3 separate regions of the Homo sapiens genome follow, and regions 1 and 3 are each linked to region 2. The links come from fine-mapping of genetic effects on gene expression. A gene starts in region 2. Each other region holds a variant in brackets. All regions are shown on one strand. Distances are between the middles of the regions. Region 1 overlaps POU2F1 (POU class 2 homeobox 1). Region 2 holds the start of POU2F1 (POU class 2 homeobox 1). Region 3 overlaps POU2F1 (POU class 2 homeobox 1).

Region 1 (8,159 bases), 200 kb before region 2:
ACGACACTATCTCAAAAACAGGATTTCTGTTAAAAACTTGACATTATTTTAAGAAAATAACTACAAACTGAGACATAAGCCATATATCTAAGGAATGGAATGGAAAAATATAAATTCTATGATAAAGGAGCAGGGAGAAAGGGACCCACCATTTGCCTTCCCATTTTGGTCCCTTTCCAGGAGAGCGAGCACATCTTGCGACAACGGCTCTCCACATCATCTAATTCAAGAATGCCTGCCAGATGGCCAGCACGTGATAGACAACTTCCCCAGGTTCTTCAGTAAGCTGAAGCCTTCTCTCTGTGGGGAATTCATTTTAAAATTCAAACTTTACTTTTCATGAAATGAATGAATTGTAGTAAGACACTAAATGCTAAGTGGTATTTATAAGTCTGAAGAAGCTAAGTTGTGCAGCCTCGAACAGGAGGAGGACCAGATGCCAAGTTCAGGGTTACCTTCCTTCGGAGGACCCCCCACCCGGCCCCCACCCAGTGAATGTTCAGGACTTGGCAAGAAATGCTAGAGGGGCAGTGCAGTTTAAACAATACATTTGGAAAAAGTTGAGTTCGGTCCCAGTTCTGCAGTCAAATACACAGTGAGATGGAGCTTTGAAGAGCTCCCTTGCAGGATCAATCATGGGCCTGCGTGTTTGATCACACAAAGTACTTGGGCCTGAGGGAGACTACTGCTACTCAGGGTCCCACGAAACCACACTGAGGGTCTGGGAGGGAGAAATGCAGTGGCCATAGCTCCTCCTGGAGTGCAGGAGGAAGGGTGGAGTGGGGCAGGAACCAGGGTGCTTATGGTGATTCTGGGGTTCCTGAGAGCACTTGGAAAAAACAATTTGGAAGCTGAATTATGCGAAGTCTGAGAATCTGTATGTGAAGCATCCAGAATACCAACACAGCAATTTCAAAGAAACTCCAACAATGTGAAAACACTTGGAAGATGGTTTAATGATGTTTTACAACAGAAATGAACTGTACAGTTACAGTAAGTTTAATATATATATAAAAAATTACAGCAGACAAATGCATCTACACAAAATCTACCACTTCATTCTGATTCACTGTCACCTACACAATCTTTCCCAAGCCTACAGCCCCTGCAGGCAGCCCTAGGAGGGGGAATCATCTAAAGGGCACTTTTGAGAGAGACAGCACCGCTCATATTCCCCGCCACCTCCTCAGGCTTCAGGAGGCATCAGCTAATTCCCCAAAATGTAAAGTTGCCTGTGTTTCAGGTTTTCAAAACCAAGAAAACGTGTGTCTCCCAGGGGCACAGATAACAAGGTCCAGCACGCAAGTTATCAGCTGATTCTTAGAAAATATTCCTATCAGAGGGGAAATATTTGGCTAACAGGCACTCTGGGGCAGTAAGGCTACACAATAGCCACCCAGAGTGCAGAGTTATCTAAGAGAAATGTAGAAGGACTCCCAATAAACCACCTCAGAATTGTCACTGCCTCATTCAAGCTGCTGGACAATTTTGGAAAGAATCATTTACACCACATCTTAAGTTTCCACAAAGAAGAACTCAAACTCACATTTTAAAGTACATAAAACAAAAAGTTCTAGGAGGCCGGGGGCCAATTCCCCTTGTGCCCCTCCTTTGACAACAGTGGACAAACACCCCTGAATTAATAATTAAGACAAAAAAGGAAGAAAAAAAAAGTGAGTTAAGATATTGAAAGAGAGAAAGAAAACATCTTTAGAAAAACACGATCACTGTCTCTTTAAAAGAAAACAAAATCCCAGTTGGGAACAGTAATGAGGAATATGCAATCTAAATTGACACCTGGTGGGAGATTATTATTGAATATTATGTACACTCAGAACTTTTTTCATTTTCTTTTTTATTATGAACACCTAGGCAGTGAAAACTGTTATGTTAATACATACATAGACACACCCAAAACATACAAAAATACTATTATTTCAAACTACTAAGAATAGGACAGTTCAATTATTTTCATGCTATGACTTTAAGAGCATTACACTGAAACAAACAAGAAGTTAAACGACATTTTTTTTTTAATATCCCAGAAATATACCAAAATATACATCTAAGCTTTGGAATTACTGAGGTTAGACTAATGCAAGTGCTGGGTAATCGTACTTAATACACGAGTCTAAGGTTCTGCAGGAAAGAAATTATCTTTGGTATCTGCATCAGGCTAATATTATTAACATTTGGATTTTGCTTTGGGATAGAGCTTGTGTGACCCAAGAACCAAGTACCCCCCTCCCCCAACCAACTGAGATTAAAAAGATCCATGTAAAAAGTTCCTTCATTTGCAATCCCCCCACCCCCCAAGTTAAAAAGTCACAGGCATCTACCTAGCACAAAAGGTTGTGAAGTACAATGCATAGTTGCACAGTGGTGCTGCAAAAAGGAAAGAAAACTACAATAAAGAGAAATGAAAAGCTTGATAATCTTTCTGCATGTTTTCTCACAAACAGGACAGCCACTTCCAAGCAGTTCCAGTACAGGAAAAGAAAAAAAGGCTCAGAAGGGCACCGTGGCGTGCATTCGCCCAGCCCCAGAGGTTAAAGCACCCAGCAGAGCAGCCAATCGTGCGCCAGTGTCTTCAACGTCCCCCACTCTGTGGAGTCCTCGGGCCAGTCCAGCAGCAGCTCCCACCCTCCCTAGGCCCTGTGCTAAGTCCCCATAGTGACCCTGGTTGGTGTAGGGTGGATGATGGTGGTGATGGGGTTTTTTGACTTTTGTTTTGGAAAATCTGAAATGCCAATTTGTTTCAGGGCATGCTCACAAGTTTGTGAGGGCCAAAGCTAGGGGCATGCACCTGTGCTGGACCCTGGAAGGTGGTAAGCAGCTTGCCTGCCCTTTCTGATCCAGTCAGAGGGTCCCCCCGCCCCACCTTCCCTGGCCTCACTCTTCTAAGTGCCAGGACACCACAGACTGGACTGATGCTGAAGACTTCCCTTTTCTTTGGTTCTTTTGTTTGTTTTGAGTTTATACAATCATTAAGAAATCTTTGGTTTTGGCTGGAAATTTGAAAAACAAAACAAAACAAAACAAAACAAAGAAACCACCCTCCCCTGGCTTATAGCAGCAGTATCATGACCTGGCTAAGCTTTTTGTCAGCATTAGGGGTGGGAATTGAAGGTTGGGAACTACATTCAAAGAAAAGGTGAAAGGGCTGGGGATGCAGCTTCTAGAGAGCCCATTGGATATAAGATTGTCAAATAATAATAATAATAATAATAAACTTAAATATTTGGATATTTTTGGTCATGTCAAAGGAAAAAAAGTGAAATGTGTATGCAGCAGTCAGCTTAAAGGAGCCTTTGGTGTCTTCCCTTCTACCCAAAGTCCTGAAAAGAAACAGAACCCTGAGGCCTCAGAGGAGAAGGGGTTGGCCTCTACCCCACCAAGGAAAAGGCAAGTACAGAAGTTGACGTGTGGCCAGCTGTCAGAAACACAGGGTGGGTTAGGGGTGTGGATAGCTGGCCAGCCCCTAAAGGCAGGGTGGCAGGGAAAGCAGATGTTAAGAGACCTGTGAAGACCCCTTGCAACAAAAAGGAATAGAAGATTGCAATTTGCCCTCAGTTTGCAGTAGCTTTTAAGCAGCGACATTCAGAGGCTTTAGGGGGTCCCACCCTAGGCTACAGGTCCCATGATGCTATAGGCCAGAGTTTAACATGACTGAGGAGGGAGGGCAGACTTGGCAACTCTGTAGGATTTCGAGAAAGTTAAAGCAAGTCACTCGGTCACGAGTTAGAAATGAGGTATACAACAGCTCCTGGACTTCTGGTGGGTAGAACAGCCCACGCTTACTCACCTAGCCTTCACTACTACCACAGATGAGGGGATGGAAGTACAGACTTATGCGGGAGGAGAGCGTTTCCTGCGGAGTGAGACCTCCTGCGGACTGAGCAATGCACACGTGCCCATGCACGCAGAGGTAAGAAGCTGGAAGTCTTTCTTTCCCCGACCTGACCTTAGGGAAGATACAACATTTATGTTGTCAAAAGCCAATGTTATAATATGATTGCAAAATCTTAGGCTTCCTGCACCAACCTGTTCCATGTTCTCCAACTGTTTGCAGTTTTAAACCTATTCAGGCTGGCACTAGTCCACTCTACTCTTACAAAGTGTGTGCCTTCTGCAGACTCACGCAGGAATGGAACCAAGGACATGGCATCCCCGACTGCCTACAACTACAGCCTTTTGTAGCAGACACTGTCATTTTAGCTTCTGAAAGTGCATTTCATTTCTTCCTATACTTTTAGACCATGAGACTCATTAAGGCTGGGTGGGAGCACAAAGTCTTTTCTCTACTTGGCTCTGTCCTTTTTCATTTGAAAGAGATCCCAATCTTAAGAAACTCAAGTGTTTGGACGTCTCATTTATACAC[A/G]GCGCTGTATCCAGCTGTCTGCCTGCAGACTTTGGGATATAATGTTTGAGAACTCAATGCCACTGCCAATTTATGAAAGAAGCCTTAAGCTGCTCTTGTGAAGCTGTGGCTAACTTATACAATGATGAACAAGTACACAAAGAAAACAAGGGAAAACTTTGCAGCAGTCCTCAATGTTTTTTACAGTAAATTAGTTTTGGGGTCTTAACTTTTTGACAGTGTCCTGGGTTTAAACCAGAAGGTGGCCCTGGGTGGTGGAGCCCTGTGCAGGGTGGGCAGATACAGGGACACAGAAACAATCATAAATCACATCTTCCCTACCAGGTCCAAGGGACCTTTGTTTCTGTGCTCAAAGTGGTGTTCCATTACACACACCTTGTTTTCCCAGAACTTCTGTTTCAAGTGCTCTAATCTTCAACATCCCTATTACCTACTTATAAACCTATCTAGCACTTTGACAAGTCATACAATATTAATACCACCTTTACATAATGTCAGAACAATAAGATTATTAGTAAAGCTTTCATGAAGTTCTGCAACCTAATCATTTTTGATGCAATATTCAGAGAGTGATACATTTCTTTACCCTCTCTCCCTTTCTGTGTCCTATCAATAGTACACCGAAACAATGAACTACCTGACTCCCTAGAGCCCATATATAAAAACATTTGGAACAAAACATTTATAGGAGAGTAAGGGAAGATCTTTTGGTTTTCCACGTAATCCTGTTCTTGAAAATTCTTATCTTTTACAGGAGACAGATGGAGATACCACATCTAAATATTGTCTGAACTCATATAGGCTGTGTTGGTTCTATTTAAAAGTATTAGATAAAGGGAAATAATGAAAAAATTCTACCCCTATCTTTTGCCCTCCCCAAATTTCTCAGCAATTCCAAGAACATCACTGCTAGATTGAGCAACTATCCATCTTTAAAGAGCCAGCAGAGCAAAACAAAATAAATCTCTTTTCCAAAGCCAGGATAACCAAGAAGACTTCCTTCAAAAAGCAGGGGACTGGGAAAAGGGGAAAAGGGAAGGAAAGAGATAAAGTAAAGCTTTTCCAAATTTTGGCTTTTTGCTCCTATTCCCTCTGCCTGTTTTGAAAACTTAAGGATAAGCAATGACATTAGCAGTGTCTTTGGTATCTAAACCAAATCCCACTTAAGTTCTGTGGGATCATTTATTTAAAAAAATAGCCTTTCTAGAGATACAGTCTATATCCGAACTCAGGGAGCCAAGAAAGTTTGTCCCAGAGTATGGGCAGAAAGGGCTTGTGATTTTTCCTAAGCCAGCATCATTTCTCATTCATGTTCCCACCAAGAATAATTCTCTCCTCAATCCCACCAACTAATCCTTAAGGTTCACACTTTGTATCACAGGGGTGAGGTGGGCAGGTTAGCTTTCAACTTCTTGGTTTGCTTTTTATCCTGTTTGTGTTTTTGGTCTAGAAAGAACTAGCCTTGGTATGAGAAAAGTAAGTAAGGTTTTAAAGTGTTGTGTTATTAGCACAACATTCAGTAACTTGACAGAGGGCAACACAAAGAACCTGTTTCACTTTAACTTTCCTAGATTTAAGATACATCAATCACTCACCTCTTGGCTCCAAATTAATTGGTGCATGTCTATGTCTGCCTCTGTTTCTCAACTGCACATCCAGGCATTCACGCATTCATCCTTTGCCTATGCTTTTGCTATGTACAGAGGTAATGAATCATTAGGAGAGGTTGGCAGGGTCTGGGGGGCATGGGCAACCATAGGAAGGGATGTAAATGCACCCTCAGGGTCCCTGAACCTACTGGACACCCCATATGTTACCTGCATGCCACCACACACTGCTGCAGACCAGACCACAGAGGCCAAAGCCAATCACAGGGAAAATCAAGTTTCCTTTGGCAAGACAGATATAAGAAAAAACAAACACACACACGAGCAATGTTTTCCTTCTAACATAATCAACATCTCCTCTTCCCCCACCCAACCCTCCCTAACCCTATAAATTGTAACCTATAAACAGGATCCCAAATACATACAGCATCAATCTTGTTTATCGATCATAATAAACATTAGTTCAACTAAATGCTACAGCTAGAATTATTTCCACTATTTATAAAATTTTTTCACTTATTTATTTGGTTTTTAGTTTAAAACCAGTTTTGCAACAATGCTAAGCTATTCTGAGGTATTTTATGAAGGTGCCAGAAGCTAGCTGTTACCCAAATTAAGGTACCACCATTCAATGAGAAAAAGAAGGGAAGGAAAGGAGATCCAGGTGACATAATCAACATAAAATTCACTCACATTTACTGCTTTTAGCTAAGGCCAAGAGTAGAAGGGCCAAAACAAGGAACTACTTAATGAATAAGGTTAGAAGAAAACTACAAAATTTTTTTTTAAAAGCTACAGTTCACAAACCATATAGAAAACTGGGTACAAACTGGATGCTCTGAGAAAAAATATATTCCCTGCCCTCCCAGTGGAATCCTTTCAAATACCTTACTGGAAATCTCAGGGGTGTCCTATTTATATTTAATCTCCTTGGACTAAGAAATGGATGATTGGCCTTTATGATGAAAGCAATTTATTTATCCTATTCCTGTCCAAGTTTACATTTGTATTGTGGACACCATCCATGCAAACCTATATAATAGCTGATCTCAGTTATTCTTCTTACAGAAATAGCAAAGAGGATTTTTCCCTTCTCAAAAGCCAAGTTTGTAAACGCTGAGAAAGATTTACCATTTTATAAAGTGTCATCCTCAAAATGTTGTAAAACTGAAAATGACATCAAATAGCCAGGACTATGAACAGCATCACACATTAAATGCTTTCCACACACACATAAAAGCAAACTCATATCAGTTATGAGCAAATTAACCCATCAATTCTTGTCCATTTTGGAAAATTTTAAATTTTGGGTCTTTAGTATTTTTCTCCCATTAGTATCAGTCATCTTTTAATGTTTTCAACTCTAATAAACAAACTTTAAGTTCATCAAGTTTAGGTGCTGATTTAATGAGAAAGTATTTGGCCAAGCTCTCCAAATGAATTGTTGGGGCCCTTCCTCAAACTGCAGACTGGTCTTCAGAAGGCCCCCCAAGAGCCAGGCCAGAGCCACCTGTCAGCGTGAATCCCCTGCCTCCTCCTTGCTACCACACCCTACACTCAGTGATACAGTGAGTCAGCAATACTACTGACTTCTCCCTGGCAGGGCTTCTCCTTTCTTGGGAAGAAACAACAGCAAGAGGCTTTTCCTCTGTCTTCCTATCTCAATGACCTTATCTTTTTTCTTGGTCAAGAATGTTTCGTGAGGATGACCTGGTTTGGGAACAGCTTTAGACTAAGAACAGAGAGTTCTATAAGCCAAGCGTTTATTCTACACTAATTGCAATGTATAATATCAGGATTTATCACTTTAAAAATTGACATGAGGATGGGCACAGTGGCTCATACCTGTAATCCCAGCACTTTGGGAGGCCAAGGCAGGCAGATCACCTAAGGTCAGGAGTTCAAAAAGCCTGGCCAACACGGAGAAATCCCGTCCCTACTAAAAATACAAAAATTAGCCGGGTGCGGTGGTGGGCGCCTGTAATCCCAGCTACTTGGGAGGCTGAAGCAGGAGAATTGCTTGAACCCGGGAGGCAGAGGTTGCAGTGAGCCGAGATCATGCCGTTGCACTCTAGCCTAGGCAACAGAGCAAGACCAGAAAAAAAAAAAAAAAAAAGACATGAATTCCCTATATTTGCCAATGTATCCAACTTTTCCAGCAAGTTAAAAAG
Region 2 (8,183 bases):
ATGGAACAATTTTAAAATCACTAATCAAAACAAAATGAACAAACTTGTCCAGACTAAGATAAATCCAAAAAGAATTCTGAATTTTTTTTAAAAAATCTGTTTTAAAAGCACATGCTTTCCTGTGAGTATTCTACCTTATTTTCAACATTATCATTTCCACCTTAAAGAATACACAGCCCTCATTCTCAACTCTGCTTTATTCACTGAAATGGATTCTAAGGCAAATGGTCTCTCCATTAGCCTAAGCCATGCTCTGATTAAGAAACACAGTTTCTTATAAAAGTCTGGGGGATCACAACAAACATTTATATGGGTCACTTCTATGACTATCTATCTAAAACCCAAATACTCCATTTGAGAATTTTGAGGAAATGAATTTTTACAATAGCATTAAAAGTGAACCAAAATATAAGGCCAGTTAACAACATCCATCCTTTTCTGTATTACAAAAACTGTAACAGCGAAATTTTGCTTGTAAAATCCAATGTACATTTTATCATTTTGTATAAAATATCTACGGCCTCAGTAGTGATTAAATTGCAGCTATAAAGGAAATTGACCCGAAATAAATGGTTTCCCTATGAGAAGGCTTCACTGCTACACTTCACCTCAGGACAATAAATCAAATTAACTGCACCTTGTCCTCTGTCCAATGACATCATCAGTTTGACCACATCTTGGGAATCGGGTGCAAAAACATATGCTATTTAAGGCATGAAATTATATTGCTGCTTTTTGTCCATCTGACCTCATACTTCAGGTCTCTGAAGCAGTCATTCACCTGAAGGTTCTCTTAAAAGCTACAGATTTTTTTTTTTCCTGCTGCATTCAGGGCCTGCCTACTGTGAGTGAAAGAAGAAAAATGGTGAGAACTGGTTATCTGAAATTAGCTTGCGTTTAATCCATCAAACCTAGAATTTTGTTACAAATTAAACTGAAGACCAAAGTCCCACAAAATACATAGCTAGCCACTCACCAAAATGTCTTAACATAATTTCAAAGGTTTAACACATTAGTGTTAAACCCCACTCCTCTAATACTTCCCTCGACTACGCAGCGGTAAACATCCACCAGTGACAGGCAACACTAGTCACACTCACACTCACACACACCCCTACACAAAATAAAAATGTTAAAAGAAAATTTTACCACAGGAAAGACCAAAAATCAAAATTACTGTTTCCTCTAAACAGTAAAAGTTAATCTGCCTCTCACAAGCCAACTGTCCTAAGTCTAGATAAAACATAACATCAATTCTGACAACTTAAAGAGGAGGGGCGGGTGTGCTGGGAGGAGAATAAGTTCCAAGATCAGGGTAAACGCAATGCCTATGTTTATTCTTCTCTTTTCACTCATTTAATCATGACACAAATACTCAAAGAAAACATAACCCCATTTTTTTGTTTTCAGTAGTGCTACAATTAAAATAAGCAAGTCTATGACAATGATAGCACAAAATTAACGTCAGCTCCATTTTAAATTAGAATGAAGATGTCAGAAAGGTAGCACCACACCAAGAAATTATGAAACTGTTGTTAATTGGAATTTCTAATATTTAGCTACTCCACAACTCCTAGAGGAAAAAAAAAGTGTCAGTTTTACAAATACTACAGACCTTTACAAAGCCTTAAAGTATTTAACATGGGGGTGGGGAGCAACCGGGGTACCCATCCCCAAAACAAAGTGATTTGGATTAAACCAAAATAGATTTCATAGGCTCTGAAAATAAAATACAGGACAGATTTTTCCCCCTAGGCCCAATACTACTGCAAAGTATAAGAAAGTCTTTTTAAGAGAAAACAAACCATCACAGAGTTGATACTTAGCTAGGACCTGTTTTAATGCTAGTAAAGCCCCAAGAGAGTTTGTTTTGCCCGCAGAGGAGGGGAAAGTGTGTGGAAGTTGGTGGAGGTAGTCATTTTGGTTATTAGTAAATAAATCAAGCAGCAGAGAACATGAGGCCTAGGCAACTGCTAGAGAAGCCAAGGCCCAGCTTCCCCCCTCTCTTCCCAGCACGGCCTGGGTTTGATCTCAGAGCCCTGCGGATTGCCAAGGAAAAAAAAAATCATATCGAACCACAAAAGCACATGGGGCGAATGTAAAATATAAACACGGCGTTGGGCTGTGAGTGGCTGTTATTAAAGGTCTGAATTACTAAACATGAGAGGCGGGGAAAGCCAGGCGGCCATTTCAATAATATAAACCTCCCCGAATTAGACATTATTCAAATGAGAAGAGGTTCAGCTAAGCAGAGAGTAAAGACGACCCAGCACACAGCGAGAAAACACCGCCACAGAAGAAGGGAGGGGGATCCCCGTCCCTCCCCACCGACTCCCAACAGGAGAGAGGAAATCGAGAATACGATCAACTTGTCAGGCCAGCCCATTCTGGGGCAGGAGGGCAGCCCTTTACATCCAAGTTCTCGGGAGGCCTCTGGGCGCTTCTGGGGCCTCGGAGCGAGAGGCCCCGGAGGGCCACCCGCCCCGTGCGTCCCGGTCAGGCGCAGGGGGTGGGGGGAACGGAGGGGGGGCAGCGGGGAGGGGCAAAGGGAGACGGAGGTCAGACCACGCCAGGCACCTCCAGCCCAACTCGCCCGCGAAGCCCCGGCCGACAACGCAAAGGGGCTGCCGACCGCCGGCCGGGGGCGCGCGGGCCGCCCCAGAGGACATCCCCTCGGAAGGAACTTGCCCCAAGGACTCCTTCCAATCCAGTCCACCCCCCAGGGGGGGCACGCAGACCCCTGCGCGGGTTCCCCACCCCCGCCGCCCCAGGCCACCTCGCAGCGCCCACGACCGCTCACCCCTACCCACCTAGAGAGCAGGCCTGGCTTGGGTCAGGCCACCACATTGGGGACCAGTGGGGCGAGGCCGAAGTGCCTGGGGCCGTGACCCCCGGGCTCAGCCCCGCGCGGGGCGCGGGCAGGGAGCTCTCCCCGCGCGCACCCCCGGTTGCCCTGAGGGCCGCCCCCCAAGGCGGGCAGCGCCCCCCCGCCCGGGCCCGCTCCCGGGGGAAGACGCGTGCGGGTGTCCGGCCGCCGGGGTCCGCTCCGGCCCCGCCGCCTCCCCGGCATTGTGCTCGCCGCCGCCTCCATCCCCCTTCACGCCCCCCACCCCGCGCCCGCCCGGCCCCGGCCGCCCGCCCGCGCCCTACTGCGCCCCGCCGGCCCAGCAGCTATGAATATGTAAAATGTCTTTATTGTCCTCTCCCTCTGCCCCGGCCCCGCCGCCCCGCCGCGGACCCGCTCGGGTTCGGGCACGGCGGCGAGGAGGCGGCAGCGGCGGCCGGCAGAGGAGGAGGGCCGGTGCCGACGGGCAGACGGCGAGCGGCGGCGGGGTGGGCCGGGTGCAGGAGGAGGGCAGTGGATCGCAGCCCCCTTTGCCCCTTGTCTTCCCCCTCCGCCTGGCCGCTCCGAGCCTCTTTCCCCCTCCGCTCAGCGCCCGGCGGGGGCTCAATGCTCCCCGGCCCCCCATCTCCCCGCCGTTAATTATAATAATCCTGAGTACTAATAAATTATGCTAAGTCGCGGGGGGGGGCAGCGGGAGCCGGGGTTGAGTATGAATATGAATATGTAAAATGCTGTAATGATTACCTGCTGCTGCTGCCGCCGCGGCTGAACTCTCATCTTGACTCGCTGCTCCTCCGTCCGCCATTTTGAATATTTTAACCAAAATCGCCCGGTCGATAAACCCTCCCTCGCTCTGGCTCCCCTCCCCCCTCCCGCCCTGCTTGCCTCCTCCCTCCTCTCCGCCCCCTCCCGCTCCTTCCTCTCCCCGGGCGCGCGCCAGGGGGCGCGCGAGGCCGGCTCTGTTCGCCCCGGCCCCCTCAGAAGAGCTCCACCCCCTTCCCGCGCTCTGCGCACGCGCCTTCGGGGCGCTGTGGCCCTTCGGTAGCTAAAGCAGCGCCCTCAATCAGCCAGGCACCCTGTGGCTTCATTTTTCGTCTCGGCTCTGCGCATGCGCGCCTTTCTCCTGCCGCCAGAAGTGTCGCCGGCGCATGCGCTCCCTCTAGCTCAGAACCAGATTATATAGTATCCCGGGCGCCTGTGTCTTCTTACACTTCTCCCTTTTCCTCCCGCCTTGCTTCCCTCCTGGCTTCGCTCCGGTCTCCCCCAGTGGCCTGTGGCATTGTAAAAGCACGGCAAGGAGCGCAGCGGCCAGAAACGTGGGGGCGCGTGGAAGGGCAGTGAGCGGCCCGCGTGCCCTGTGCTCCGCACTTTCTTCAGGGTTTCCGCGCAGTTGAAACATTGGCAACAATGGATAAGCCGCTCCTCGCTAGGTAATTTCCGGCCCTCTGGGCAGGTAGGGGCGGAAACGACCGCCACGGGAGCCGGGCATGAGGCACCTGCTGAGCCACACGCGGGCCTCCCGCTTTAAATTTGAATCCGAGCTAATCCCCGCCCCCGGCTCTGCTAGTGCAGGAGACCCGGCCCCGGCAAACGCGAGGGGGAGTGTCGTGTGATTGTTTTAATTAGCCCTAAATCTCTTCTGCTCTACTTGCTTCTAACGCCAGGCTGGCTTCCTCGGGAGCTAGGCGTCTTATTAAGTCGCTAATTTCCGCCCTACCCTTCCTTTCTGCCTTCACGCCCCTCTAACGCCGCTCCCCCCAATCGAAACAGACCCCATATTCTGAGGCTTCCCCCCGCGCCTTCTTCCCGCCTTGGAACACCTTTTAAAACCTAGCAGTAAGCTGATGACTAATAAAAATGTCGAAATCGTAACTTCATCGTGAATTTTATTTTGCTGTGTTTCTCAGAGTAAATATGGTATTGGGGAAAGGTTTCGCGTTGCACATATCTTTCTTGGTAACTAGACATAATGTTGCTGAGTTTTCTTTATCTTAAATGGCGAAATTCCCTGGACAAAGTCCCAGGTCTAATTATTTTACGAATTTTTAAAGCCCTATTTTTGTTTGTTTGTTTGTTTTTTAAGAATAGAAAGGTGTATTTCATGGTAAGCAAAGTTTAAAAAAAATCAGCTCTAGTTAATCTGTCTTGAGAGATATGACTGAAGTTTAAATTGGGTAGAACTGCTGGTTCTACAATTAAAAACAAAACTGATTTCCAAGTGAGTGCAATTATTTTAATGGGTAAAGTTTTAATCATCAGTCCTAGAATGCTCGTTGGACTCCTTTAACTGTGCAAGTACAGTTAAAGCTATTGTCAGTGACAGGCAACGATTTGGGGGTGGGATTGATTTGTTCGTGGTAATTAAGCCTTAGGGTGTGTGCATGACTGTTTGAACCAAATAATTAGACCGCCCTGTAATCTAATTATTTAGAGCCACGCCAACCAGCACACTTAAGGAAATGAAATATTTAACTAGTTAATCTGGAAATATGGCCTAAGTTATTTTCACCAGCATTACTGTAAGGGAAGTCTCAGAATTGACAACCTTATTGGAAATAGTTAAGTACATGCCCCTGCTCTGGGGACCACAAATTTGAAATCATCTCCATTAAGAAAAAGAGCTCAAATACCCTCATTTAATTTCCTGTCTTCTATTTAATCCTAGTTTTGCTCTTTGGTTCAAAAAGTATATTAATATGACCTTCGGAAAGTCATTGAAGCTAGTGTATGTGTTATGCATTCTTTACTGTTTCACTTCTATAAAAGGAAATTTTCATGGAAAGGATTTTTATTTAAGGAAGGATAGTTCTGTGAGAACAAAAATAGCTTAAAATAGACTGTATCAAAGTTTCATTTTCCTCCTAATGAGTTATTTATGTTTCCAGCTGTCCCCAGTGCCTAGCACAATGCCTGGGCATAGTAGGTGTTCATATTTGTTGAAGAAAAATAGTGAATATACAGTTATGTATGTTAGGATTATTTGTAAAATTAATGTCATTTATTCAATAAAAAATTGTAAACATCTGCATTCTCATGAACTTACTAGGTGCTAAAGATAGGAAAATGTGTAAGACACTACTTTAACCTCAGCAAACTCACATATATCACTTTAAAAAAGAAAAAAAAAAACCCTTACAATACCCTGGGAGGTAGAAACTCTTTATCCCAGTTATCTAGGATGGGAAGATTGAGGCATAGAGATGTCAAGTAACTTGCCCAGTGTCACACCACTATTAAGTGTTAGAGCTAAAATTCAAACACAGGCAAGGGACCGTACTCTTAACCACTACACTAAGTTATTTGCTTTGGGTCAGGCAAAATCTTGGAGGTACATGTATTAGACTGTTCGTGCATTGCTATAAAGAAATACCTGACACTTGGTAACTTACAAGAAAAGAGGTTTAATTGACTCATGGGTCTGTAGGCTATACAGGAAGCATAGCACTGGGAAGGACTATGTTTCTGGGGAAGACTCTGGAAGCTTACAGTCGTGGTGAAGGCCAAGCAGGAGCTTGTACATCACACAGGAGAACAGGAGCAAGAGAAAGGGTAGGGGGGCAGGTGCCACACACTTTTACAAGAACTCACTGTCATGAGGACAGCACCAAGGCGATGGTGCTAAACCATTCATGAGAAATCTACCCCAATGATCCAGACACCTCTGTATTAGTCTGTTCTTCCACTGCTATAAAGAAATACCTGAGATGGGGTAATTTACAAAGAGGTGTAATTAGCTCACAGTTCCACAAGCTGTGAGATACACACTTAACCAGATCTCATGAGAACTCACTGTCACCAGAACAGCAAGGGGGAAATCCACCCCCATGATCCAATCACCTCCCTCCAGGCCCCACAACCAAAATTGGGGATTATAATTTGACATGAGATTTGGTGGGGTCACAGATTAAACCATATGGGTACATATAGTTCAGTATAGGAAGGGAACAACACATTAACAAACAATGTCCTTGTATATAATGTCATAATAAAAATGTAGGCCAGGTGCAGTAGTTGCACCTAAAATCCTACCACTTTGGAAGACTGAGGCAGGAGGATTGCTTGACACCAGGAGTTCAAGACCAACCTGGGCAACACAGTCCCTGTCTCTACAAAAAGCCAAAAGTTAAGGTGGGTGTGGTGGCACACACCTATGGTCCCAGCTCCTTAGCTCCTTGGGAGGCTGAGGTGAGGGATGAGGACTGCTTGAGGGCAGGAGTTCGAGGCTGCAGTGAGCTATGATGGTGCCACTGCACTCCTACCTGGGTGACAGAGTGAGACTCTGTCTCAAAAAAATGATTTTAATAAATAAATACAAATAAAAAGGTATATGTGGATGAGAACTTAACTTCACTTAGAAACAAATAGCAACTATTATAATTGCCAAAAAGTAGAAACAATTCAAATGTTTTTCATATGAATGAATAAAACATTCATACCATGGAATACTACTCAGCAATTGAAAAGAATGAACTACTATCATATACAACAACTTCAATGAATCTCAAAGGCATTATGCTGACTGAAAGAGGCCAGTCTCAAAAGGTTATATACCATGTACTATATGGTTCCATCTGTATGACATTAATGAGATAACAAAACTATAGTGATGGAAAACAGATCAGTGTTTGCCAGGAGATAGTTACAGGGGAAGATGTGATTATAAGGGATAGGCACAAGGGAAGTTTGGAGGAGGGGGGTGGTTAATGGAGTTGTTCTGTATCCTGAGTATGGTAGTGGTAACACAAATCTGTACATATAGTAAAATACACACATGGCACAGTAGTGCAGGGGAGTGGTGGTTACTTCTGCCTAGCTGTTACCATTACTGGATGAATGTTCCTTAGTAACAGCCCTAAAGTGTCAACAGGAATGTGTTCCATCTGTCTTGCTAAAGTGCAACACACAGGCTCCCTTGCAGCTAGGTGTGGCCATGTGTGACAAAATTTTGACTATTGAATTATAAAGAGTTAATTTGGTGGGATTTCTGGGAATGCTTTTTCAAGAAGCAAGTTTTGGGAGGCCGAGGCGGGAGGATTGCTTGAGGCCAGGAGTTCAGGGCCAGCCCTGACAACATATGAGACTGTGACTCTACAGAAAATATAAAAATTAGCTGGATGTGGTGGCACATGCCTGTAGTCCCAGCTACTTGAGAGGCTTAGGTGGGAGGATCACTTGAGCCTGGAAGGTTAAGACTGCAGTGAGCCTTAATCTCACCACTGCAGTCCAACCTGGGCGACAGAGCAAGACTCTGTCTCAAAAAAATAAAACAAGCAAGTTTATTCTTCCTCCTTTTTTTGTCTTCCTGCTGCCCAGAATGCAGATGTGAAGACTGAAATAC
Region 3 (8,183 bases), 170 kb before region 2:
GATCTATTAATTGTGAATGAAATTAACAAAATACCAGTACAACCACATGTATTAGTAGGAATTTAACCTTTCTCCATGCTTCATGCTATCTAATTTGGATCTCACAGTAAGAAAGGCAGGTATTTCACAATGAAGGACCTTTAGCTTAAAGAAATCACATGATTTGCCCAATCACACAGTTTAAGTGGCAGAGCTGACAAAAACTCCTAATTCAGAGTCCTCCCAATGTGCTCAAGTCTTTTCTGAATTAGAGAAGTCAAAATTTTCTTAAAAGCTTTGTTATGATATTACCTGGTACAAAAAAATAATTGCCAAATATCTCTTGCATTAACTTAAGCTCCATAGCCTAACACTCAAGGTCTCTAGTGTTCCAGTCCCAAACTACTATTCCAGGCATACAGACACTACAATTTAACCAACCAATCTACTAGAGTGTCTCCTCATACACCCTATGGTTTCCCTCACTCCAGTGTTTCTCCCCCACTCTGAGGGGGAAACGCTCATGCATTTCCTCTGCTTAAAGTACTTTCCCCCCACCTTTTCTAGTCTGTGGAATTAATTCCTATGTATCCTATGGTAAGCTGCCACCTCTCTCATACTGAGTGCTTGCATGGATGTGATTCTAGTCTCTCCTGAACCCTGCAGAACTCTGGTTCTGTCTCCTATGTTAGTAACTTACTTACTTCACCTATTTATAATCATCCATAAGAGCAGAGGCTGACATGTCATCTTTTACCACCTACAGTTTCTACTAAGTACTAATGTTAAGTACTACACAGACAATCCCATGTACAGAAAAGTAAAATCCTCACTGACCTCCAAGAAACTCTTCTCTAAGGCCACACGGATGTTGGTCTCTATGCTGGTGCGTTTCTTCCTCCTACGGCTCAAGCCCTCAATTCCTGGAGAATTCAGGGCACTTGGGCTGGAGAGGGACGAATCAGATGAGAGGTTCTCTGTAAGAATGAAGAAAATACAGAAATAAAATTAGCTGAGCACAGTGATTCATGTGCATAATATGCATATTAACAACAAAACTGACAAAATAAGCTACATCCAAGTATGAAAAGGTTTTCACATAACCTACATTACAATATTGCTTATTGGCCGGGCATGGTGGTTCACACCTGTAATCCCAGCACTTTGGGAGGCTGAGGCGGGAGGATCACTTGAGGTCAGGAGTTCAAGACCAGCCTGGCTAAATGGTGAAACCCCATCTCTACCAAAAATACAAAAATTAGCTGGGCACAGTGGCGTGCGCCTGTGGTCCCAGTTACTTGGGAGGCTGAGGCAGGAGAATCACTTGAACCTGGGAGGTGGAGGCTGCAGTGACCTGAGATGGTGCCACTGCACTCCAGCCTGGACAACAGAGTGAGACCATGTCTCCCCCTACCCACCACCCATCCCCCCAATATATATATATTTACTACCATGGATATTTCTGCTGCCCTTATTGGCATTCTTTCTGCTAGGATGGTTGACAATATTACCACTATGTTTGGATTTCTGTTTCTGAGACAGAAGAGGTTTACTATTCCTATCCTTAAACTCAGCTCTATGTCTCCAGTTCTGTTTGTTTATAAGTTCTGGGGATAAAAGGAAGAAAGTTTCTTAGAAATTACTGAACGTTTAATATTTATCTTGTAAATGGCCTCTCATTTTATTGGTATAATCTAGGGTAAAAAGAAAAGAAACAAATGAAATATTTATAAATTCTCTGAAGTTAAATCACAGGGTTCTATAATTTCACAGTTTAATAACCTTGGGCATGTCATACACATCTGAGTTTGTTTCTGCTACACGTAAAATAAGATGGAAACAGTAAACCAGTGGTTCTTATCTGTGGACTTGGGAAACAGATGCCTAGGCCTCACCCATAGCTACTGAATAAAACTGTCCAAGGATGCGTGTTTCAGGTTTGTCTTTTCCAAAGGCCTAATTTTTGTTCATATCTACAATAAGAACCATAGTTTAAGGGATCTACATGACTCCTACAGCTTTCATAGTCTATGATCCTGTGACTCAAAATTCCAATCTTCCAAAAGGAACTCTCAGCACAAAAAAACGTAAGACAAAGCTAGTAGTCCAACTTTTCTGAATGAAATGTGTGGTCATTTGAAATAACAAAAGCAGAACTATTGCAAGAACAAGTTCTATGATAATTCATCAAGGAAGAAACAATAAGCTTCTACTTCAAGCTTATCTAAATACAAAAGCCTTACTTATCCTATTCCTTCAACTGTGTGTGTGTGTGTGTGTGTGTTCCTAATCCTGGCTCAAATACAAGAGTATTTCAGGCTAAAAATTACGGCTAATTATTTATACTGTAATTACTAGAATATTTAAATGAATCAGCTTTCTGATTTATATCACCATAATTTATAATGATCCTCCCAGGATTAGTAAGCTTCAAGGTTCTGTAACAACAAAAATAGAGTAAGAAATATAAACCCCAATTTATATAACAATCCCCATGTAAAATTCCAATGAATGACAAAGAAATGTCTTATACAGTCACTTACCTGCATCATTTAGCCACTTCTCTAAAAGTGGCTTCAACTTGCACATGTTCTTAAAGCTGAGGTTCAAGGCTTCAAATCGAGAGATGGTAGTTTGGCTGAAGTCATTTCCATATAGTTTCCCCATAGCGAGCCCAACATCACCCTACACACAATACAGAGCAGGAGAAGAGGAGAGGAAAGACAGAGTTATCTCACCAGTGCTTAAAGCCTTCACTCTGGGGTGTTGCTCCAATAACTGCTTTAGACAAGGAGTCAGTAATTATTCCACTTACGGGGTCCCACATAAACTCCATCCCTAAGCCAGTCACAGTGTTACTGTGAGGACTCTTTTAGGCCTGATCGTTACAATGTTCAATACTGTCCCACATACTTTCCCATTTTGAATCTCTTCTTGCCACCTTATGTAATCATGGAGATACCAAAATTTCAACTAGGTATCAAAAATAGTGCTAATATTCTAACAAGCCCCTTAATTGATACAACCAAAGTGATTTAAGTAATTTTTAAAAATGTATTTATCTGGTCTGGGCACAGTGGCTCACACCTTTAATCCCAGCATTTTGGGAAGCCTAGGCCTACATGGGTGGAATGCTTGAGCCCAGGATTTCCAGACCAGCCTGGAGAACATGGCAAAACATCTACAAAAAATACAAATATTAGGCAGGTATGGTGGCGTGTGCCTGTAGTCCTAGCCATTTGGGAGGCTGAGGTGGAAGGATCGCTTGAGCCCAGGAGGTCAAGG[C/T]GGTAGCAAGCCGTGATCATGGCACCGCACTCCAGTCTGGGTGACAGAGCGAGATCCTGTCTCAAAAAAAGAAAAAAATTTAAAAAAGAAAAATAAAAATAAATTTATCTGTATCACCTACAGATATTATGTATAACTCTCTAGATAACCCAAGATATTTACGAACTAATCAAACTTCCCAAAAATCACTTTAAAAATTAGAAATCATCTCTTTTCTTCTTTTCCCTATCAAGTATTTCTGGACGCAGTGAAAAAAAAATCTATTTTCACTCCTAGTTTGGATTTCAAAGTTAGTTACAAAAAACAGGTATTCTAAAAGACTACTTTTGTAACCATCATAGAAATAGAAATTCACAGTAGAGAGGTTTGACCCATTTAGTCAAACCTTCATGGGCAATGGAAACTTAGTAACCTTATAGCAATAGAACAATGATGCCCTGAATATATTACAAAAGATGTCTTTCTCTATAAGCCTATAACCTTTGAAATGTATACAGAGCTTTTCTTCTTGCTGAATCTCTCTTGATCAAACTGGGAAAAAAGCGTAAGATAGTTGCTTTATATACAGGAAACAGAGGCTCACGGAGTTTAAATGATTCACCCATTCATTTCAATTAGTTTAGTGACAGGGCAGAAAGGCAACATCATTTCTGGTCCAAAGTACTATACAACTAATCCTACTATGAGACAGCCAACTCTCAACTATCCTGGCAACACTTGTTTGAACTGGGATTATCCCAGTCTTTTGATTCCCCCCTACCCCTAAATCCATCTTTTGAACACTACATTTTTTATTAGCACATTGAATACTACATTTTTTATTAGGTGGTAGTTGGGTTAAAAAAGTAACATATTTTTAAAACCCCATTTTCTTTTTGGTGAGCAACTTCTGATAAAAAGTTTAACAGATGAGAAATATTGAAATGTAAGACAAAATGAGGCACCCAGAATACCTGAACTTCAAGTGATTGATATCCTCTGCCTTCCCATATAGCCACCAGCCACAAGTGGCTATTTAAATTAATTAAAACCCAATAAATTAAAAATTCAGTTCTTCAGCATCACTAGCCCTTCCAAGTGCTCAATAGCCATAAGTAGACAGTGGCTATTGTATTGGACATCCCATGTCCAATGTACAGAACACCCCATCATCACAGAAAGTTTTAATGACAGTTCTGAATATACTGAAGTAGACTGTTTATTGATTTCATTCCAATTACCATAAAACTGCAAGAATCAGAATCAGTGGTGAGCAGGGCATAAATGCTATCCATTATACTGTATACAAATATGTCTAAAGACACAGATGATTATGTTTATCTATACCTGTATCTCTATATATTTATTAAAATGTTACTTCATTCAGGCAGGGCACGGTGGCTCACAACTGTAATCCCAGCACTTTAAGAGGCCCAGGCGGGTGGATTATTTGAGGTCAGGAGTTCGAGACCAGCCTGGCCAACATGGCAAAACCCCCGTCTCTGTTAAAAATACAAAAATTAGTTGGGTGTGGTGGCACACCCCTGTAATCCCAGCTACTCAGAAGGCTGAGGCACGAGAACTGCTTGAAACCTGGGAGGCAGAGGTTGCAGTGAGCCGAGATCATGCCACTGCACTCCAGCCTGGGTGACAAAGTGAGACTCTGTCTCAAAAAAATAAATAAAATAAAATAAAATAAAATAAAATAAAATAAAATAAAATGTTACTTCATTCAATCAAATATTCACTAAGTGCCTACTATATGTCAAGCATTGAACTTATGCATTGTGTATCACATATATTCATGTCATGGTCAGCTTGTTTAGATTACAGCTGGTGCCAACTAAACCTTGCAATTCTTTGAGTATATAAACTTATGTAGCAGTTAGATGGCAATAAGTGTTTTCTGGCATAGTAACTGCACAATAAGCTACAAATTTTCACAAACTTCTGTCTTATTATAAAAGTAACAATTTAACAAGCAAAAAATAAGTCAACAGCCTTGGAAACAGAAGGCCCCATCTCTACCAAACACAAAAAAATTAGCTGTGTGTGGTGCATGTGCCTGTAGTCCCAGATACTTGGAAGGCTGAGGTGGGAGGATCACTTGACCCCAGAAGTTTGAGGCTGCAGTGAGCTATAATTGTGCCACTGCACTCCAGCCAGAGCCAAGAGAGTGAGACCCTCTCTCTAAAAAAAATAAATAAATAAGTAAATAAAATATATATTAAAAAATCATGACAGTAATTATAAGAAATGATACTTTAAGGTGGTGGCTGGAAATAAAGCTATGCCATTCACTAACTAGAACCATGATAATAAATAATAAACTCACTTTATCATTTATTAATATGTTTTATTTCACATTTAAATTGCTTAATTGAATAAAAAGCAACAGACTCCTCAGTTAACATACTAATTTTCATTAATTCGGTACAGGCTTGGTTTAATGCTCTTTCGTGATAATCCAACTCACAACCATCTTGGGTTATCACTCACAAAAGTAAATGTTTTAAGTAGTCGATTCATATATAATCTTAACTATATTATATCCCTTTGATATTTTTAAAAAGAACATAACAAAAAAGGAACAAAAACTGAGACTGGGAAATAATGAATGTACCACATGTGATAAATGTATTATGCTATGACATGTTTTCTAATTATGCAAAGACAGCCATGGTAATCCTTTAATAAGCAATTATGAAATTAGAAAATAACTTTAAAACATCTAATAATGTGTATATTTACACAGAGAATAGAGCTTTTTTTGTTTCAGCAAATAACTTTAATGGCTAAAACTTTGTGTGTGTATATAAATAAATTGGACACAGAGCAACCTTTGAATAACTAAAATTGAAGTATCTGACTTAAAAACAGAGGTTGATAGACTGATTTTCCATTCTGCAGCAGTAGTATGTACTTTAACCCACATAGTCCAAGTTTGTGAACCATTGCCACTGCTGTCTCAAAGTCATTTCGAAAAATAAGGAATGGTCATGCCAAAAAATAGGATAAAACCACAAAACAAAACACCAGACCATAGGGAAGCTCCTTTACCTGGAGAGATGTGCGGAGGGAGAGAAAAACATAACACTGGCAATATGTTGGGTCAAATGCAGAAAGGCAAACCACTATTTGAGTAAAAGATAAGGATTTTTAAAAGCCTTAACATCTTTGGCATATCACTTACGCAACAATCTCTCAGGGAACCCCAGAGTATGCTGTGCTAATAGTTTAAAACTTGAGGCACTGCTAAATATGCTAACCTTATACTTATTTCAGCTTTGTAACTTACTCATATCAATCTAGTTCTATGTTTAGCTTTCTTTCTTTCTTTTTTTTTTTTTTTGAGACAGAGTCTGGCTCTGTCACCCCCAAAGCTGGTGTGCAGTGGCGTGATCTTGGCTCACTGCAACCTCCACCTCCCAGGTTGAAGCCACTGTCCCTGCCTCAGCCTCCTGATTAGCTGGGATTACAGGCGCCCGCCAGCACGCCCGGCTAATTTTTGTATTTTTTAGTAGAGACGGGGTTTCGCCATGTTGGCCAGGCTGGTCTTGAACTCCTGACCTCAGGTGATCCACCTGCCTCGGCCTCCCAAAGTGCTGGGATTACAGGTGTGAGCCACTGTGCCCGGCCTAGCTTTCTTTTTAAAACAGGTCAGATCATTTAAGATGCTTTGAAAGTATTAAAATGTTTCTGGATAATTTGCTTCTTCACAAGTCAAACTCCTCACAAATGTAACTGTATTTCCTCTAAAATCATGCCTATTTAAAAAATCATTACATATTCCCCAACACAATTGATTTCTTTGAGCAAAAATGAATTCCCAAAGAAATATAAGCCTGGGCTGGGCCTGGTGGCTCACACCTGTAATCTTAGCACTTTGGGAAGCTGACGTGGGTGGATTTGGTTGAGCCCAGGAGTTCGAGACCAGCTTGGGCAACATGACAAGACCTTGTCTCTACAAAAATTAGCCGGGTGTGGTGGTGTGCCTGAGTCCCAGCTACTCAGGAGACAGAAGTGGGAGAATCCCTTGACCCCTGGAGGTCAAGGCTGCAGTGAGCCGTGATCATGCCACTGTACTCCAGCCTGGGTGACAGACCAAGGCCCTGTCTCAAAAAAAAAAAAAAAAAAAAAAAAAAAAGATATATATAAAGATATATATAAATGTGTTCTTAAAAACACCCATAGTACATTTGGGGATGCTACCCTTGGATTTTGACCTACCAGGCCAGGTGGAGCATTACCGTACTTTCAACACAAAATAATTTGAGTAATATTTAACTAGTGGCTTAAAAACTTTAAATTATATTCCCTGGAAAGAAAATAACAGATTTCTCCTGATTCCATAAAGGCACCCAGTCTAATCCATACTTCAGTTTTTTTTTACCTAATGATCTTATACCATTTTACATAAATTTCATTCAGTTTAATTCCTTGCCTGCTTTAAAAGTATTATTTGCAGGCTGGGCGCAGTGGCTCACACCTGTAATCCTAGCACTTTGGGAGGCCAAGGCGGGAGGGTTGATTGAGGCCAAGAGTTCAAGACCAACCTGGCCAACATAGCGAGACCCTGTCTCTAAAAAAATATATTATTTATGACAGGTTAATCAAAGAGTAAGTCAGTGGTAGTGCTTAAAACAAACAAAAATGCTACATATCCAGACAACTGTTTAAACCATTAAATATATTCACCCTTCTTTAAAAGTCCTCGGTTAGCTGACAAATTCCAGGAAATTAATTTGGATTTTGGTTAATTTGGGGTTTTCATCTTCTATAGATTCTTGCTCGATTAACTGGTTTTAGCATAGGCTTAGAGAGTATGCGTGCCTGTGCTTGCATGCCTGTCTCCATCACCCTCTCTCTTCCAAAAAGTTATTTTTATTTTTAATTTTTATTAATTTTTACTTTTTAGAGACAGTGTCTTGCTCTGTCAC

What was found. PIP is the estimated chance that this variant, and not a neighbour inherited with it, causes the effect. A credible set is the group of variants that fine-mapping cannot tell apart.
Region 1: its variant is the best candidate, but not a certain one, in a credible set for the expression of POU2F1 in whole blood (INTERVAL, PIP 0.69).
Region 3: its variant is the best candidate, but not a certain one, in a credible set for the expression of POU2F1 in whole blood (TOPMed, PIP 0.74).

What each region holds. Positions count from the first base shown.
Region 1 is chr1:167,420,114-167,428,272 of GRCh38, reverse strand. It overlaps POU2F1 (POU class 2 homeobox 1), which reads right to left. Exons shown (of 16, transcript NM_002697.4): 16 at 933-8,159. Among named protein-coding and RNA genes, the nearest start is that of CD247, 94 kb to the left of the region's middle. RefSeq lists enhancers at 2,083-3,053, 3,054-4,024. The variant A/G (reference allele first, on the strand shown) is at 4,382.
Region 2 is chr1:167,216,365-167,224,547 of GRCh38, reverse strand. It overlaps POU2F1 (POU class 2 homeobox 1), which reads right to left and starts at 3,662. Exons shown (of 16, transcript NM_002697.4): 1 at 3,590-3,662. The coding sequence starts at 3,650. It overlaps POU2F1-DT (POU2F1 divergent transcript), which reads left to right and starts at 4,012. Exons shown (of 1, transcript NR_185889.1): 1 at 4,012-4,717. RefSeq lists enhancers at 2,260-2,439, 3,970-4,079 and silencers at 2,500-2,679, 2,690-2,969, 3,190-3,339, 3,690-3,789.
Region 3 is chr1:167,390,767-167,398,949 of GRCh38, reverse strand. POU2F1 (POU class 2 homeobox 1) reads right to left here. Exons shown (of 16, transcript NM_002697.4): 10 at 2,523-2,664; 11 at 817-956. Among named protein-coding and RNA genes, the nearest start is that of CD247, 120 kb to the left of the region's middle. The variant C/T (reference allele first, on the strand shown) is at 3,265.